2 separate regions of the Homo sapiens genome follow, and region 2 is linked to region 1. Evidence: fine-mapped expression QTL. A gene starts in region 1. The other region holds a variant in brackets. All regions are shown on one strand. Distances are between the middles of the regions. Region 1 holds the start of XPNPEP2 (X-prolyl aminopeptidase 2). Region 2 overlaps XPNPEP2 (X-prolyl aminopeptidase 2).

Evidence for each region. PIP is the estimated chance that this variant, and not a neighbour inherited with it, causes the effect.
Region 2: its variant is the best candidate, but not a certain one, in a credible set for the expression of XPNPEP2 in fibroblasts (GTEx, PIP 0.74).

Annotation. Positions count from the first base shown.
Region 1 is chrX:129,735,231-129,743,554 of GRCh38, reverse strand. It overlaps XPNPEP2 (X-prolyl aminopeptidase 2), which reads right to left and starts at 4,576. Exons shown (of 21, transcript NM_003399.6): 1 at 4,293-4,576; 2 at 1,374-1,447. The coding sequence starts at 4,341. RefSeq lists an enhancer at 5,297-5,346.
Region 2 is chrX:129,755,872-129,764,195 of GRCh38, reverse strand. It overlaps XPNPEP2 (X-prolyl aminopeptidase 2), which reads right to left. Exons shown (of 21, transcript NM_003399.6): 14 at 7,641-7,712; 15 at 4,956-5,016; 16 at 3,615-3,684; 17 at 2,920-3,024; 18 at 2,131-2,190; 19 at 1,426-1,502. Among named protein-coding and RNA genes, the nearest start is that of SASH3, 20 kb to the left of the region's middle. RefSeq lists enhancers at 4,069-4,148, 4,169-4,218, 7,812-8,311. The variant A/C (reference allele first, on the strand shown) is at 4,580.

The sequences.
Region 1 (8,324 bases):
TATGTTTGCATTTCAAATAAACAATGTGTAATGTTTTAATGTAAGTATTATATTAAAACATGCACAATTTGGGGCATACTTGCACTAAATTCTTATTTGTTATCTAAAATTCAAATGTAACTGGGTGTCCTGTATTTTATCTGGCAACCTTCCCTTGGCAGGGCTTTTTCAGGTTGCCACCCACTGGTCCCAAATGGCAGAGGAGAGTGAATGAATGCCCCCAGCAGTTTGAGATATTGCCCAGAAAGACCCTTTCCAGACCAGTTCTCTATTTCTTTACAGGTCATTTTAGCTTTAAAACGAAAAGCATGTTTCCGTTTGTGCTGTTTTGCTTTCTACTCCACGATATATCCATGTTTGTTTTAATATAAAAGTAATGTGGTTTGCCCACCCACCTGCCTGCCCCAGGGGTCCCATAAAGTTGATATTGCTAGCAGATGTACTGCGTTTTTCCCATGGCTTACAGTGCTGCTGGCATGCCTACCCCTTAGCCCTACTCTGATTGTAGAAAGAATCACTCTGGTCTCCAGCTAGGAAGCTGACTACCCAAGCCCCTTCTGCTGGGCCTTTTCCTCGTCTGCACACCCTAGGCCTCCCTCTCTTGCCCTTCCGTTGGCTCTTCTTTGGTTTTGGTTTTGTTTTGTTTTGTTTTTGAGACAGAGTCTTGCTCTGTCGCCCAGACTGGAGTGCAGTGGCACAATCTTGGCTCACTGCAACCTCTGCTTCCTGGGTTCAAGCAATTCTTCTGCCTTAGCCTCCTGAGTAGCGGGGATTACAGGCACCCGCCACCATGCCTGGCTAATTTTTTTATTTTTAGTAGAGACGGGGTTTCACCATGTTGCCCAGGCTGGTCTCGAACTCCTGACCTCAGGTGATCCACCTGGCTCGGTCTCCCAAAGTGCTGGGATTACAGGCGTCAGCCACCGTGCTCGGCCTCCGTTGGCTCTTCTAACCTCTGTCTTCCTCCCTCTTCCCTTCTGTGCTTCTCTTTTTGCTGTCACTCTAGAATTTGTCTTTTCTTTCCTCTGCCTGGCCTCAGCCAAAGGCCAGTTAGGGGCCTCCTGCCCTCCTCCCTCCTCCTAGAGGGGTTTCCCAGGCCCAGATCAGGACGGAAGCAGATAACCTGCTGGGGGAATGAATGGGAGGGAGGGGAGGGCACTGATGTGGAGGGGAGGGAGTGGAGGGGGGAGGGGCCCAAGAGTCCGGAAATCAGGAGAAAGCCTGGTAGGAGGAGGGGCTACCAACTGACCCAATGAGGGATAGAGAAGATGATAGAGCAGGGCGGGGGTGCTGCGGTGCAGGGGTGCGTGGGGCAGGGGTGGGGGGGTGCGTGGGGCCAGGGGGGCCGTGCGCGGGGGGCAGGGGGCACTCACAGGGGGGTTGGTGGAACAGTTTCTCACATCCTGCCCTCCAAGGTCCACTGGCTTTGTGTGGCCCCAGGCACAAGCTAGAAGCCGGGAGAAAAATCCAGGGTCATTTGGGGACCAGCTAGTTCCTAGAGAGGGAAGGAGTATCCTCTCAGCCCGCCCCACGGGGCCTCCATCCTTTGAAACGCACGAAGCTGGCCAGCTCTACTTGAGGATAAAAATAATCACATTTCATAGGAAATCAGGCTGAACTGGATAGCACCCTGGGTCACAATCAAAGAAATCTGTTTCATAGACAAGTGATTGCCACTTTTGGATGGGTTTTAGTGCTCATTAAATCAATTTTTCTTCTAATCTAATTGGGTCTTTTCAGGGTTTAGTGAAGTAGAAAAGTTGTGTGTAAATTAAATTTTTGTTATCAAATTTTCTTTGAAATGCTCTAGAAGATCACGCTAAATAATCACCCCACCTTCATTTTAGCCTTTTATAAATCTAATTGTATGATACATTGGGTTGACTTCAATTCAAGGCCTGCTTGCACTGTTTCTTACAGTCCAAATCTTTGCCTATCATTCCAGGCTCATTTTCAATATATTAGACAGAAATCCTAGTCTGCCATGGTGGGGAAAGATGGATTAATTAGTATTTAAAGACACCCTATTATGTGCCAGATACTGAACGCAGCAATTCATCTACAGTATCTCATTTGATATTTGTGACATCACTATGAGGTGGAAATTATTGTTCACTTTCTGCAGAGGAGGAAGTCAAGGCCCAGATAGATTTGGTAACTTGTCTAACTTGTGCCACCAGGAGTCAGTGGTAGAACAGGGATTTGAACCCAGGCCATCTTAATACAAAAGAGGTGAGCGCACTTTCAGTCCTCCCACTCTGCCAAGTATGAGAGGTGGGCCTGAAAAAGGTGATGCCACAGAAGGGACAGAATATATGGAGATCTAGTTTCTAGTTTGGGCTCTGCCCCCAATTTAGAGTGACTCGAGAGTGACCCCCCCCCAATATTCATTGAGCAACCATCTCCTAAGCGCCTACTGTGTGCCAGGCACTGGACTAAGTTCTCCAGGCTCTGGACCTCTGGAAAGGAGGGGCTTGAATTAGACAAAGCGGTCTCTGATAGTCCTTGCCTCTAACCCCCCTGTCTTTTAGGGAGGGATTTCCCTAGATGGTAATGGGGCCCTGAGTGTGGGGAGACATTACACTCCCCCGCCCCCCCTCCTTTTTTTTTTTTTTGAGACAGAGTCTCTCTGTCACCCAGGCTGGAGTGCAGTGGGGCGATCTCAGCTCACTGCAACCTCCGCCTCCCGGGTTCAAGCGATTCTCCTGCCTCAGCCTCCCAAGTAGCTGGGACTACAGGCATGCACCCACCACACCCAGCTAATTTTTGTATTTTTAGTAGAGATGGGGGTTTCACTATATTGGCCAGGCTGGTCTCGAACTCCTGACCTCAGGTGATCCACCCGCCCCGGCCTCCCAAAGTGTTGGGATCACAGGCGTGAGCCACTGCGCCCAACGCCCCCCGCGCCCGCATTTTTTTTTTTTTTGAGATGGAGTCTCCTTCTTTTGCCCAGGCTGGAGTGCAGTGGCACAATCTTGGCTCACTGCAATCTCTGCCTCCTGAGTTCAAGCGATTCTCCTGCCTCAGCCCCCCCTGAGGAACTGGGATTACAAGCGTGCGCCACCATGCCTGGCTAATTTTTGTAATTTTAATAGAGACAGTGTTTCACCATGTTGGCCAGGCTGGTCTCGAACTCCTGACCTCAAGTGATCCGCCTGCCATGGCCTCCCAAAGAGCTGGGATTACAGGCATGAGCCACCACGCCCAGCCACACTTTCGAGTGGGCTGAGCTACAGATGCAAGGAGGGTGGCTGGGGTTCAACACCATGAACGTCCTGTGTGATTTTATCTTGGTCTCATAAACTCAAGGATCAGATGCGACCCATACTGTTCATTTAAGAAAACAAACACCCATTTCTGTAGAAACAGATCCCTGGCAAAATGTTGGCACTGATATGCTAACATAAGAATGAGGACACAGCCAACTTATGTCTCTCTGGACACCAGAATATGCTGTTCTCTGAGGCCAGGGCTGTGGCTCCCAAGAGCAGGCTCTGCAGCTGAATGACTCTGTGGTCCCTGGCACAAGGCCTGGCACTGGGTAGGTGCTCAGGAACTGGACATTGAGTGACTGATCAGGCCCTGCTGACAGACAACAAAGAAAGGAAGGCTAGGGTGGGAGCGCTGGGCTGGGCACCTAGTTGAGGACAGAGAGGGTGCCGCAGGAATGACAAAGAGGAAAGACTCTCTTCCTGACCAAAGTTTAGTTAGGCTCCCCCAAAGCCTCTTCTCCACTTGGCCTTGACCTTGGCCTTCTGTGTCTGTCCTGCCCTTGCCAGGCTTGCATCACCCAGTCTTAGCAAGAATCTTGCTAAGTCAGTTTAGACACCCTTGATATCTGATCACTCTGGCCTGCCGTCAGCAAGAATGCTGTTCAGTCGGTTTAGCAAGAATCCCCCTACCCTTGCTATCTCCTCTTAATACTTTTCCATCCACTGACCCCCTCACTCTGCTCCTTGGCTACAGATCCCTGGAAGTCTTTTCTGTAATCAGAGTTGAGCCCCATTTCTCTCCTCTATTGCAATGCGGTAGTCTTAAATTAAGTTTTCCTTACCGTTTTAACGAGTGTCAGAATATTTTTTTTCTATAACGGGGGGAATGGAAAGGTGCCAAACCAGACTCGATCCAAGTTATGAGGGCCCCCAACACTGGCCCTGAGGTGTCTCTTCCTCAAGTCAGAGAGAGGAAGCAACAGAAAAAGAGACTCGGGCCCCAACCCTCACTCCAACCCTTTCTGAGCTCAGAGGGGAGAGGTCAGAGCTGCCTTCCAGTGGAAGCTAGGATGCACATACCACAGAGGAGGACCAGCCAGGGGCAGCAGCCCCAGTGAGCCCGGGCCATAGGGTCTCCAGATGCCGGCGCTGGGTGGATGGAGGGACAAGGGAGAGAGGGAGGGCTCTTTCCCCGGCCTCTTCCTTCAGGCCTTTCCTGGGCTCGAGCAGACAGAGGGTGGGGGCTGGCGTCAAGAAGGAGGCGTCTGGCTGCTGGGTGGAGAGTGCTTCTCTGGTCTTTTGTTTTGGAGGGCTCTGGGAGCCAGGGTGGGCAGAGGAGCTTTGGGCTGCCCGAGGCGGACTGTGCAAGTTCCTAGTCGTGTAGGATAGGGTGTGAGGCTATCCTGGGCAGAGTCCAAAGATCTCAGAGACAGAGGCACAACAGCTGGTCTCAATCAGCCTGCTTTTCCCAGCCCCCTCTCAGCGGCAGAGCCCCAGCCATTCCTTAATTCGGTCCCCTTCCCTCCAGCAAGCTGATTCCCATTAGCTCCCACACTCTGGGCTCTGGCTCCAGCACTGCTTTTGCTGTGGGGATGGAGATTTGCCTCCTGCTGCTGCTCCTTTTCCTCCCCACCTCTTCTTCCTCCTCGTTTTCCTTCTCCTCCTCCTTTTTCCTCCTTCCCCTCCTTTTCTGGGCTCCTCCACTTCCTCTTCTTCTTCCTCCTTTTCCCTCCTCATCCTCCTCCTTTTTTTTTTTTTCCTCCTTGTCCATTTCCTCCTCCTCCTCCTTTTTGCTCTTCCTCCCCCTCCTTTTTTCCTCCCTCTCTTCCTCCAAGCTGACTGGAAAAGCCAGTGTCCTCTCTTCTTGTAGTGCTTGGCAAGTCCCACTGTACCCCTTGGGAAAGTTGGTTGTGACTGGAGAGTTACTTTCTTGAGCTGGGATGAGTCCCCCCAGGAGTGCCCACTCTGAAGAAGTGATGCCAGCTCTTCCCTTGGGATCTGGGGAGTCCCATTCCCCTGCATTTTCTGAACCTGCACTCTGGGGAACCGAGGCTGTTAGAGCCACTCACACCTGGGAGGAAATGAAAGCCCAAAGATGCCCCTATCTGGAGGGTTTGGGGGATGCCACTGAATAGGGAAGAAGACACAGAAAGGGGAGTTTGGGCGCTCTGAGAAGACTAATTTGGTGAACTGGAAATGCTGTTTCTGCTGTAGCTTCTAGAACAGGGATTTGGTTACCCTGAAGTGTGAGTCACTCGTAAACAACACAACTCCCAATGAGGGAAATGGAGAAGCTGAGGCCTGCCTTGTCTTCACGCCCAGCTGAATCAGAGGGCAGCTTCAAGGCAGCTCCTAGTAAATGCTCTACAGAACCCTTGCTCTTTGGGTTCGAGGAAGGTGATTTCCCAGAGAGGAATGCTTTAGAGAGACAAACAGACCCAATGGGGATGGATGCTCACCTAGCCTGGAGGGCCCCAGAGGCAAACTGCCCATTCCTTTTGTTTCTATTTTTATTTTTGAAACAGGGTCTTATTCTGTTGCCCAGGGTGGAGTGCAGTGGCATGTTCTCGGTTCACTGCAACCTCAGCCTCCCGGGCTCAAGTGATTCTCCAGCCTCAGCCTTCTGAGTAGCTGAGACCACAGGTGCGTGTCACCATGCCTGGCCACCATTCCTTTTGTTTCTATTTTTAATGGATTTACAGTCTGCTTATGTCCACATCAAGTGTAAAGCAACTTTCAACCATCCATTCAAGAATGACAAAATAGGCCATTTTGAAGAGGGAAAACGGACCTTCATGGGAGTCTCTGAAGGGGCAGAGTCAAAATGAGTGAGGTGGCCCAGTGAACTTCATTCTCAGGAATAAAAGCAGAGGGCAGGAGCCCACAGCCTCAGAGGACAGACCAGGGACAAGGAGAACATGAGAATGCTGTCATTCAATAACTGCTGAAGCTCCCGCAGCCTTTTCCCCAGGCTCCTCTCTCCCACCCCTTCCAGGACTGGTAATGAAATTATTCCCAGAGACCAGAGCACTGGAAAATGCCCCCTCAAAGACTCCTGCCTCCTCTGTTTGCTGCAGTAGCCATCCTGAAGGGCAAGCAAGCAGGTAGAGCTGATGGGATTTTGCAGGGGAAGACCCCTGAAGATAGCCTTTGAGGACAAACATGGTCCTGTCTTTCTGTCAGTGAACTGAGCCTTGAAACACTGACTTGGGAGCCAATCAGCCTGAGTTTCAATCCCAGCTCTGGCACCCACTAGCTGTGTGATCTTGGGCAAGTGACTTTATCTCCCTGAGTCCCCAGTGTCCTCACCTGTGAGTTGGCATAATAATAGTACTAGCTTCTTAGGGTTGTTATGAGGATTCAATGGGCTAATGTTGGTGATGCTCTCAGAACATGCCTCGCAGAGACAAGAGTAAATGTTCTACAAATGTTTGTTAATTCACATACTAGAACTAAATAAAGCCAGTCTCATCTGTACTTTGTTCTTTCTCTCCCTGGCATCCAGCACTGCTGAAATAGCAGTTGTTAGAGCAAAGATCAGCTGAGCTGAAGGGCCAACCCCCGAAGCAAACAAACTAAACGGGGATTCCACCCCCATCTTCCGGACTCTGCCCAGGGATGGTCCCCACATAATACTCAGCCCTCTGGTTTCATACCTCTGGGTCCCAGCCTTAGCCCTGGTGGCAAAGATAACTTCACTTGCCTTCATCAGCTCCTTCCTTATCTCCCTATCTCGAAACCACTGTCTTTACTCTTATCAGTTGAGAGACTTCAACCCAAGTTGGCAACAGGCTTGAAGTGGAAAGAAATGATTCAACGTGGGGAGGGTTGAATGGCCGAGTCTTTGCATCAAAGTTGTTTGGAAGATGCATGCATCACTGGAGTCTCGCTCTGGCCTACTCAGGCAGTGGACTTCTGCTTGTTTTACTTTTTGGTCCAAAGCTAGCCTAAAGGCCAAATTCTGAAATCAGAGGTGATCTTCTCTAGAGTACCTCCTGTCTGTGCCTCTTATTTTGCACCCTCATGCCACCCCAGGCTTCCAACCTGAGCCTGCCCTCTCTGGGCACCAATGCCTCCTTGACTTCCATCAGAATACACCTTCCTGACTTACATGTTCTCCCACCAGGTGACAACCACTAGGTGTCCTGAATCGCAGCTGAGGTCACAATAACAACTAATGTCATGAGTGTGAATGAGAAAATGCATATAAAGTGACGAGCAAGCAAGGAACTCTAGCACCAGGGATACAAACAGCTTTGCTGTGGGAGCCCCGGGGAAGGGTAGAACCTGGAGGAAGGCCAGGAATCAGAGAGGTGGAGTGAATCTTGGCAGTAGAGGTGCAGAGATGGCATTGCAGGAGGTGGTCACAGGGAAGGACAGCAGTCTAGGGGCAGACTGGCGGCAATAATGTGAAAAGCAGCCTGAGGAAGCACAGGTGGACAGCGCCATGGACTGGAATAGCCGGTGGCAATAGGAAAGTCAGAGACCCAAGGGGGCTATGAGCACTGCAGAGCATCCCCTGGGGATGTCCCAAGTTACTGAGGATGAAATCATGAAATGATACCTGAGGTTCTGCAGTTCTGCAGGTGGGAAGGAGGCTTTTGAGCTAGCACATGCCCAATCTAACTCTTCATGTGACCTCACAGGCTGAGGGACTGGGGACTCTTGGCCTTGTGGGCACAGCATGTGATTGCTGCTTCCGAATTCCCGTTATACCCTCCCATCAGGTTCCAGCATCTCATGCTGGGAGATAGGCAGGGCTCTCAGAAGCAGAAGAGAAGACAGGCTTGGAGAAAAAAAGTGGCTTTGCCCAGGTCCAAGCTGACCTGTGGCAGAGCTGGGACTCAAACCTGGGTCTGGGGAACTTAAAAGCCCATGCTCTGTCCCTTGGACCTCACAGTCACCCCAATCTGAAGATCCTCCATGGCTCCCACTGCCCTCAGGGCAGAATTCAATCTCTTCAGCTTAGTGGCCAAGGTCTTCCTCTCTAACATTATTCATCTCTTCTTGTCCACATTCTCTCCATCCATCAAAGTCCAGCTCAAAATTCATCTTGTCTACCAAGCCCTCATCACCTCAAATTCATCTTGGAGACTCCCATAACATTTTATG
Region 2 (8,324 bases), 21 kb before region 1:
TGCCATAAACAAAGCCAAGAGATATTTGTCACACATCTCTTGGCTTTGTTTATGGCATTGTTTCCATAAACATTGTTTCCATTTTCTATTTAGTCAGAGTTATTAATCTTTTCCTTCATGGCTTCTGGTCTTGCACAGAAAGACTCTTTTCCACCCTGAGATTATAAATGAATTGATATAGGTTTTCCTCTACATCTTTTGTGGTCTCATTGCTCACCTTAAAACTTTGGTCCATCTGGAATTTTATTTTGGAGGTTATTCAGTTTAATCCCCCCAAATGATTAGCCATTTGTTCCCCCTGTCCATTTGCTGAATAATCATTTTTTTCTTACTTTTTTGCAAAATCAGCTTTCTTGTAAACTAAATTCCCATGTTGTTTATGGGAATAAGAGGGTTTACTTCTGGACTGATTGTTCTGTTTCATTGTTACAGCTATCTATTTCATCTCCAGTGTCATACTGTTTTAGTTATGGTAGTTTGTGTTCAAATTTGAGAGGACTGGCTTTTCTTATTGCTTTTTTTTTAGATTGGGTTTTGCTCTGTTACCGAGGCTAGAGTGCAGTGGCGTGGTCACAGCTCACTGCAGCCTCAACCTCCCTAGGCTTAGACCATCCTCCCACTTCAGCCTCCCGAGTAGCTGGGACTGCAGGTGCATGACACCATGTGCAGCTAATTTTTTTTTGTATTTTTTGTTGAGATGGGGTCTTGCCATGTTGCCCAGGCTGCTCTCAAACTCCTGAGCTCAAGCGATCCTCCTGCCTTGGCCTCCCAGAGTGCTGGGATTACAGGCATGAGGCACTGCACCTGGCCCTGCTCTTCTTTTTCAGAATTTTCCTAGCTATCTTCGCATGTTTATTTTTACAAATAAACTTTACTATCATTTTGTGAAGTTACAAAAGTATCCAGTTAGCACTGGAATTGAGGTTATCTTGAATTTATAGATTAATTTAGAGAGTAATGATATCTTCATAATATTGAGGCTTCTCTCCAGAGAGCACCATTTACTTAAATCTTTTTTATGTCCCTTAGTAGAGAGTTTCTCCATGTAAGCCTTTTTAAGTTTACATCTAGGTATTTTATCTTGTTGGCTGCTATTATACAGAATCTTTATTTCTAACAAGCTCCCCTGGCGATTATTATGTGCATTGAGAACCAATGATATAGGGCAGGGATACTGATTCACTTGGTCTGGAATGGGGCCTGGGCATGGGCATTTAAAGCACCAGAAAGCTCTCTGGGTGATTCAAATGTGCAAGCGAGTTTGAAAAGTCTGACTTATGGAATTCCTAAGGAAGACTCCAGATAAATTCATGCCTGCACACTAAATGCCCTTCTCCTTTGATCTTCCTCCCCACTTTCCTCCCATGCAGCCCAAAGTCACTGACATGCTGCCCACACCTCCAGCCCATCCTGGTGGCAGTTTACCTTGGTCTTTGCTTCTACCACGAGAGCCACATCTTCGAGACGGATCCCAAATTCTCCATCCTTATAGTAACCAGGTTCTGGGAGACACAGAGATGCTGGTGGCATTAAGCTGGGAGAGGGCCCAAGCCCAGGCTTCCTGTACCTACTGATGAGTGGCTGGAGGGACTGGCTGTCTGGCTGTCCCCTGGCTGTTGACTCTGGCAGCCCCACAACTGGTTAGATGTTTGTTGGCTAAGCAGAGGCAACTCATCCCTGTCAGGCCTCAGATCCCCCACAGGGGCATCTCTGACTCACTCTCTCTTCCCTGTAGCCCAGCAGGGAAGCCCTAAAAACCCACTTGGGTCCTGAAGGTACTCCCATCTCCCTGGATGCCACTGTCCTGTTACTCCAGCATTTGGCAACTCCAGAGTCTGAATATACAGCTGGGTCTACGGCCATACCACCCTGAACGCACCTGATCTCGTCTGAATATACAGCTGGGAAACAACTCCCAAGAGCAAAAAGAGGGTCTGGGCTGAGGGGAGCTGGAATTAGGGTGGGACAAGCCATTTGGGGCTGGGCGTAGCGGTGGGAATGGGGAGGTGAGTCCCGAGCTGTACTAGTGCCTGCTGTGCTCCTCTGAAGTCTGGTACACTCTAGACTGCAGTCCTGGGCTAGTCCTGCTCTGGGATGGGGTGGTGAGGTAGAGGGGCCTGAGGGCCATACCAATGGAAGTGAACATGCCCTTGGCCATAGCGATGTTGTTGGACTGGAATCCCACTGGCCCTAGAAAGGAAGACATAAACATGGTATCAGTTCTCCTATACTCACCAGCTTGGAAGTGAGCAGCTTCCGAGGAAGAGCAGATAAGTGAGGATCCCAGAGCATCTCTATGAGCACAGGTCCATCACATCATTGTCTGCCTGGGCCTGGCACACACCAGATTGGCTCTGGCTTTTATTATTTATTTAGGTATTGAGAGGGGTCTTGCTGTGTTGCCCAGGCTGGAGTGCAGTGGCGCCATCATGGCTCACTGCAGCCTTGACCTCCTGGGATCCTCCCACCTCAGCCTCCCGAGTAGCCAGGACTACAGGCACATGCCACCATACCTGGATACTTAAAACATTTCTTTTGTAGAGACGGGGTCTTGCTGTGTTTCCCAGGCTGATCTCAAACTCCTGGCCTCAAGTGATCCTCCCACCTTGGCCTCCCAAAGCAGTGGGACTATGGGTGTGAGTCACCACATGCAGCTGGCTCTGGCTTTTATTTCTCTGGGGTCTATATAAGTTAGTCACTAGGGCTTGACCCTCTTTCTGGTGCCCTCTTGAATGCCAAGCAGCCAGCAGGACTGGCCTGCTGCTGGCATTCCTCACTTACCCTGTGGAGCTGGGTAACCTTGGGTAGATCATGGCATCTTTGTGGGTCTTTGTCATTTCCATACCTGTGAAATTCTCTACCTTCATAGAGGGTATAATAAAAGGGGGGTGGCCTGGGGAGTGCTGAGGAGACACCTACACTCATGCACACACAGGAAGTTGCCAATGCCGTGGCCTGTCCCATGACCATAATTGAGACCAGCATCCCACAAGGCTCTGCGGGCAAAGGCCTCCACCATTCGCCCTGGAAGGGAAGAGAGATTGACCCCAGTCAGATGGCTTTACCGAAGACTGTCCACCTTGCCCCTTCTTGCTTCACTATCAGAGTGGTGCCTAAGAAGAGGGGCCCCTGAGAGGCCGCTAAGCATGCACTGATGCAATGATGTTGGGTTGGGATGGAGGAGGGCTGATGGATGGAGTTAGTGGTTCCCTCGCCAGACCAGCCCATCACTATCTCCAGCTTACCATACATTGTATCCATTACCTGAATTGATGCCTCTACTGTAATTTCTCCCCATCTGTCAGGGCTTTGCACTTTGACACCTAATTCCTCTAAGAATCCTCCCATAATTGCTGTGGCCCACTGATCTCTCCCACCTCTGAGCAACAGTGTTAGATTAAGAGGCAGGAAACTCAGGTTCAAGGCCTGGATCTCCCGCTAACCTTCTGTGTGACCTTGGGCAAGTCACTTTCTCTCTCTAGGCTGGATTTTCTCATCTACATAAGGGATGGGATGATGACAAAATCCTTGCCCCACCAGCCTCCCAGGGTGATGGTCTGAGTCCTGTGAAATCAGGGCCTGAGGCTGTGTCCAGACTGGTTTCTGAAACCCACCTGATGTAGCAGCGGGAAAGATGAGCCTGGACAGGTCAATATTTCCTATCAGCACACGGGTGTATGCCTCCTGATGGGGAGAGGAAGAGGTGATATGGAGGACGGGAGGAGGAGCCAGAGGAGTATCCAGCTGCTTGGCCTATGGATACACGGTGCAGGGCCCAGGCCTGGGTGTGTGTAGGCAGGGTGGGGGGAGTCTCATCGTTATGTGTGGCTGCCCGGGTTCTGGAAGATGGCCAGCAGAGGCTGAGGAGGGCCTTCCCAAAGCTGGGGCTCCATCACGTGCTTCCCTCTGGCTGGTCTATGAGGATCATTACAATATCTGCAGGAGACACTTGGTGGCGGTGAACCGAGGCTGTGACTCCCTGGGCTGAATCCTGACTTAGCCACTCACTCTGAGACCTTGGGCAGGCGACTTTAACTGCTGTGTGCCTCAGTTTCCTTATCTGCGATGGGAAGATAACAGGACCTAGCTCCTAAGGTTGTTGGGAGAGGCAGGCAGACTAATGTACAGAAGGTGCTGCCAACAGCGTGCATGCTTCACGGAAGTTTAGCACACTCATTCCTGTGGTTGTGACGGCTGCTGAGTTTTCTTAAGGCCTTTCATGAGGGTTGAGGTTTGCTGACTTGGCAGCTTAGCCTTCCTCTGTCAGCGGAGGGAGGTGGCCTGACAGTGGCCTCTTCTGGTCACTTCCAGAGGCGATGTGGTCAATCTCCATCACCACACAGGTTCACAGGCTTGTCACTTTGGGCAGGACAGCCAGAGGCAGCAGACTCCGCCGCTAAACTGTGAGCTCCTGGAGACCTGGACAGCATTTTGTTCCCCTCTCTGTGTTTCCAGCACAATGTCTGCCCCATAGTCGGCCTGCTGCATGCAGCATGACGGCAGCTCGCTGCTCCACCCCCAGGGCCCTCTGGTGCACAGAGACAATGCCCTCGCCTCTGCCCCAGCTGGCCAGCCCTCG[A/C]TGTTTCCTGAACACCTCTGGCTCCTTTCCACCGCGGAGGCTTCACTTGTGCCGTTTTCCTCCACTTGGGATGCCTTTCTTTCTCCTTTCTGCTGAGTACAGGGCCAGGCACACAGGCAACAACAAAAAAATATTTGTGCACTGATTTACCAGAATAGGATGAGGCTCAGCTTGGGCTGAGGCCTTGTCAGTGGCCTGAAATATCCCCGGGGAAGCAGCAGGGAGCACTGGGTTTTCCGGCACCAGTGGTGTCACCTTGGGCAAACTACTTAACCTCTCTGAGCTTCAGTTTTAGCCTCTGAAATGGAAGGGATCTTGACTGCTTGGGTGCCCCCTTGGGGGAAGGTGGTGAGGGGAAATCTGGGCCCATGCTTACCTTCTGGAAGGCAGAGGGGGTGCCCCAGTGGACTGTTCTGGTGATGTCTGTGGTCCCGTCCCTATGGAGAAGGAAAACCAACATGCCAAATGCCTGGGGCTAGGGACTGGGGCCATGTGCTTTCTGTGTGCTTTCCACAAGTGGCAGGGCTGGGATGGGATGGGTGGACGGCGAAAGGAAGAAGACAGCTACCATAATCAAAATCCCCTCTTCAGCACCTATGTGTGAAAGGCCTCTGCAAACCTATCAAGTTAAAAGTTACTAAGTTGTCTGACAAGTGTGACTCCCCACCCTACACACTCCTCCCCCATCCCACTCATTTTGGCTGTTCTGTAGGTCTGGGTTTCCTTGGGTCCAGCTGGTTATGAAAGCAAGGCTTCTTCCAGGCTTCCTGGGAGGCAGAAAGGGGAATGTCCCCTTTTTACAGCTGGGGAAACTGAGGTCCAGAGAGATTATATTATCATAACACTCTCATATTCAGATAGTTGTCGACCATTTATAGGACACTTTTGCTGCTCCCTGGGAAGAATGGTAGAAGAGGCCTCATTATCCCCAGTTCACAGATGAGGCCATTGAGGCCATGCGGCTGTTTCCCTCTCTGAACCTCAGTGAAGCCAGGCCTAGAGCAAGCACTGCCTCTCCACACAGTCCTCTCCATGGCAAACACGGATCTGACCCAGTGACTTGCTGAGTTCCAGTTAGGTGAAGCCTCAGTCCCAAGGTCTGACTCCCAACTCCCAGCTGCAGCAGTTGCCACAGATGGCCCCTGTGATCATGCCTTGGTGAGGGAGAGGGGAGAAATGGTCCCAGGGCCCTGGGGCTTCTCCTTGGGTCATGGGGTGTGGTGACCTTCTTCTTCAGAAGGAAAGAAGAGGAAGTGAGGTGACTATTTCCCCGGCCTCACCCTACTCTGAGCACACCCCATTCCAGCAACGCCCCCACAAATTCACTTCCCCTTTGCTCATTGGCCATCTCAAGTACACACAGCATCGAACTCCTGACCAGCAAAGGCTGCTAAGCTGAGCGCCTGCTACTCTGGATCCCCTAGAGCTGTGCTAAGAACAAGCAAAGAGCCTCTGTCGTTAGCACATTCGCCATTTCCACAGGACTCCTTGCTCCTCCATCAGTTCAGTACGGCCCTTCTTTTGTCCCACCCCACGCTTCCCACACTTCCTTCCTCAATGAGAAGGGAAAATCTTTCAGGTCAGCTCAGCTCAGCTCAACTCTGGTGTGAATGATCAGTCACACGTTTGGAAGGAATGGGGTTAGCCTATTCTTTTTCTTTCTTTCTTTCTTTCTTTCTTTCTTTCTTTCTTTCTTTCTTTCTTTCTTTCTTTCTTTCTTTCTCTCTCTCTCTCTCTCTCTCTTTCTCTCTCTCCCTCTTTCTTTCTTTCTTTCTTTCTTTCTTTCTTTCTTTCTTTCTTTCTTTCTTTCTTTCTTTCTTCCTTTTATAGTCTTGCTCTTATTGCTCAGACTGGAGTGCAGTGTCACGATCTCGGCTCACTGCAACCTCCGCCTCCCGGGTTCAAGCGATTCTCCTGCCTCAGTTTCCCTTGGGAAGCATGCTCCACCACACCCGGAAAATTTTTGTATTTTTAGTAGAGATGGGGTTTCACCATGTTGCCCAGGCTGGTCTCAAGCTCCTGACCTCAGGTGATCTGCCCGCCTCGGCCTCCCAAAGTGCTGGGATTACAGGTGTGAGCCACCACGCCTGGCCAGGTTAGTCTATTCTGCACGGCTGTCATGTCTGAGCATTCAGGTTGTACACTGTACAAAGGTAGCCCATCAAAAGGGTTGCTTCTCTCATCTGCCCCCACCTCCACCCTGAACAGTGCCATGGGGAAGAGGGGGCTGAGGAGTCTGCATGACGTTGGTGGTGCGGGGGTGTCCAGGGTGTGCACTAGTGGATGAGAGTAGGGTATATGTGTTTGTGTGGCCAGGCAGGGACATTGAGTATAGTTGCTCAGACTGTGTAATAATACGTGGACTTAGAAAACATTTTACTTGAGGCTGGGCATGGTGGCTCATGTCTGTAATCCCAGCACTTTGGGAGGCTGGGGCAGGTGGATCACCTGAGGTCAGGAGTTTGAGAACAGCCTGGCCAACATGGTGAAACTCCATCTCTACTAATACATACATATATATATATGTGTGTGTGTGTGTGTGTATGTGTGTGTATATATATGTGTGTGTATATATATATGTGTGTGTGTGTGTATATATATATATATATATATATATATAGCTGGGCATGGTGGTGGACACCTGTAATCCAAGCTACTTGGGAGGCTGAGGCAGGAGAATCACTTGAACCCGGGATGCAGAGGTTGCAGTGAGCCAAGATCGCGCCACTGCACTCCAAACCTGGGCGACAGAGTGAGACTCTGTCAAGAAACAAACAAACAAACAACCCACAAAAAACAGCAACTTAAGCAAAGGGAGTCTTTTCCTAATTCCCACAGAGGTGCTGCCTGGGTCCTGCCACTATTCCAGCCTCTGTGTATTTCCCACTGTGCAGGGACCCCCATGTGTGAAAATGGGTAGGATGTTCGGGGCTCATTCCAGATCTCTCCTTTTTCAGACGAAGAATCCGTGGCCCAGGAAGGGAAAGCTTTGGCTGACTCTTGGCAGGCTCAGGAGGTCTGAGCAGAGACATCCAGGCTAGGGTGAGGTCGGGGTACATACCAGTACTGCCCCCCAGAGTCCAGCAGGTACATCTCATCTGAGGACAGCTTGCGGTTCAGCTCCTTGGTCGGGCTGAGAAGGGGAGAGAATGTTGAGAAGGGCAGCCTAACCCTGCACTGGGTCACGTGGGAGGCCTTGGTGGGAGGACCTCTGGGGCCTGGGCTTCCAGGCCAGTCCCTCTGGAGGAAGTCATTCTATCCCAAAGGGCCCTGGAAGAGAACTCAGCTTCCGTTGCTGCTGTCCTCAGCACACGTCTGTTAATCCTGCACCTGGCTGAGCCAGGCCCTGGTCCCCAGGGAGGAGAGAGAGGGTAAAGCCCAGAATATGAGAGCTGGGAGAGCCCTAGAGACCCCCCAGCTCAGCTGTCTCCTTTTCCATAAGGAGAAGCAGGCCTATGGAGGCCAAGGGGCTTGCACGAGGATGCGCGGTAAAGCGGCAAAGAGCTGGGCCTCTACCCAGATGCTCCCTCCGGCCCTTTGTCTCTAACTTCCTGCTGCCTCCGAGAGCAGAGGGCCCTGAGAAGAAGCAGAGCACAGGAAGGGAGGATACCTCCAGGGTGGGGCTGCTGAGCAAGAGGTGGTAAAGCCGAGGAGCACCCACCCTGCCACTCTAGCCCGAGTGGGTAGGAGGGGCTGGGGCAAGGCAGCCGAAGGCGTGGGAGACACCAGGGGACACCAGGGGAGG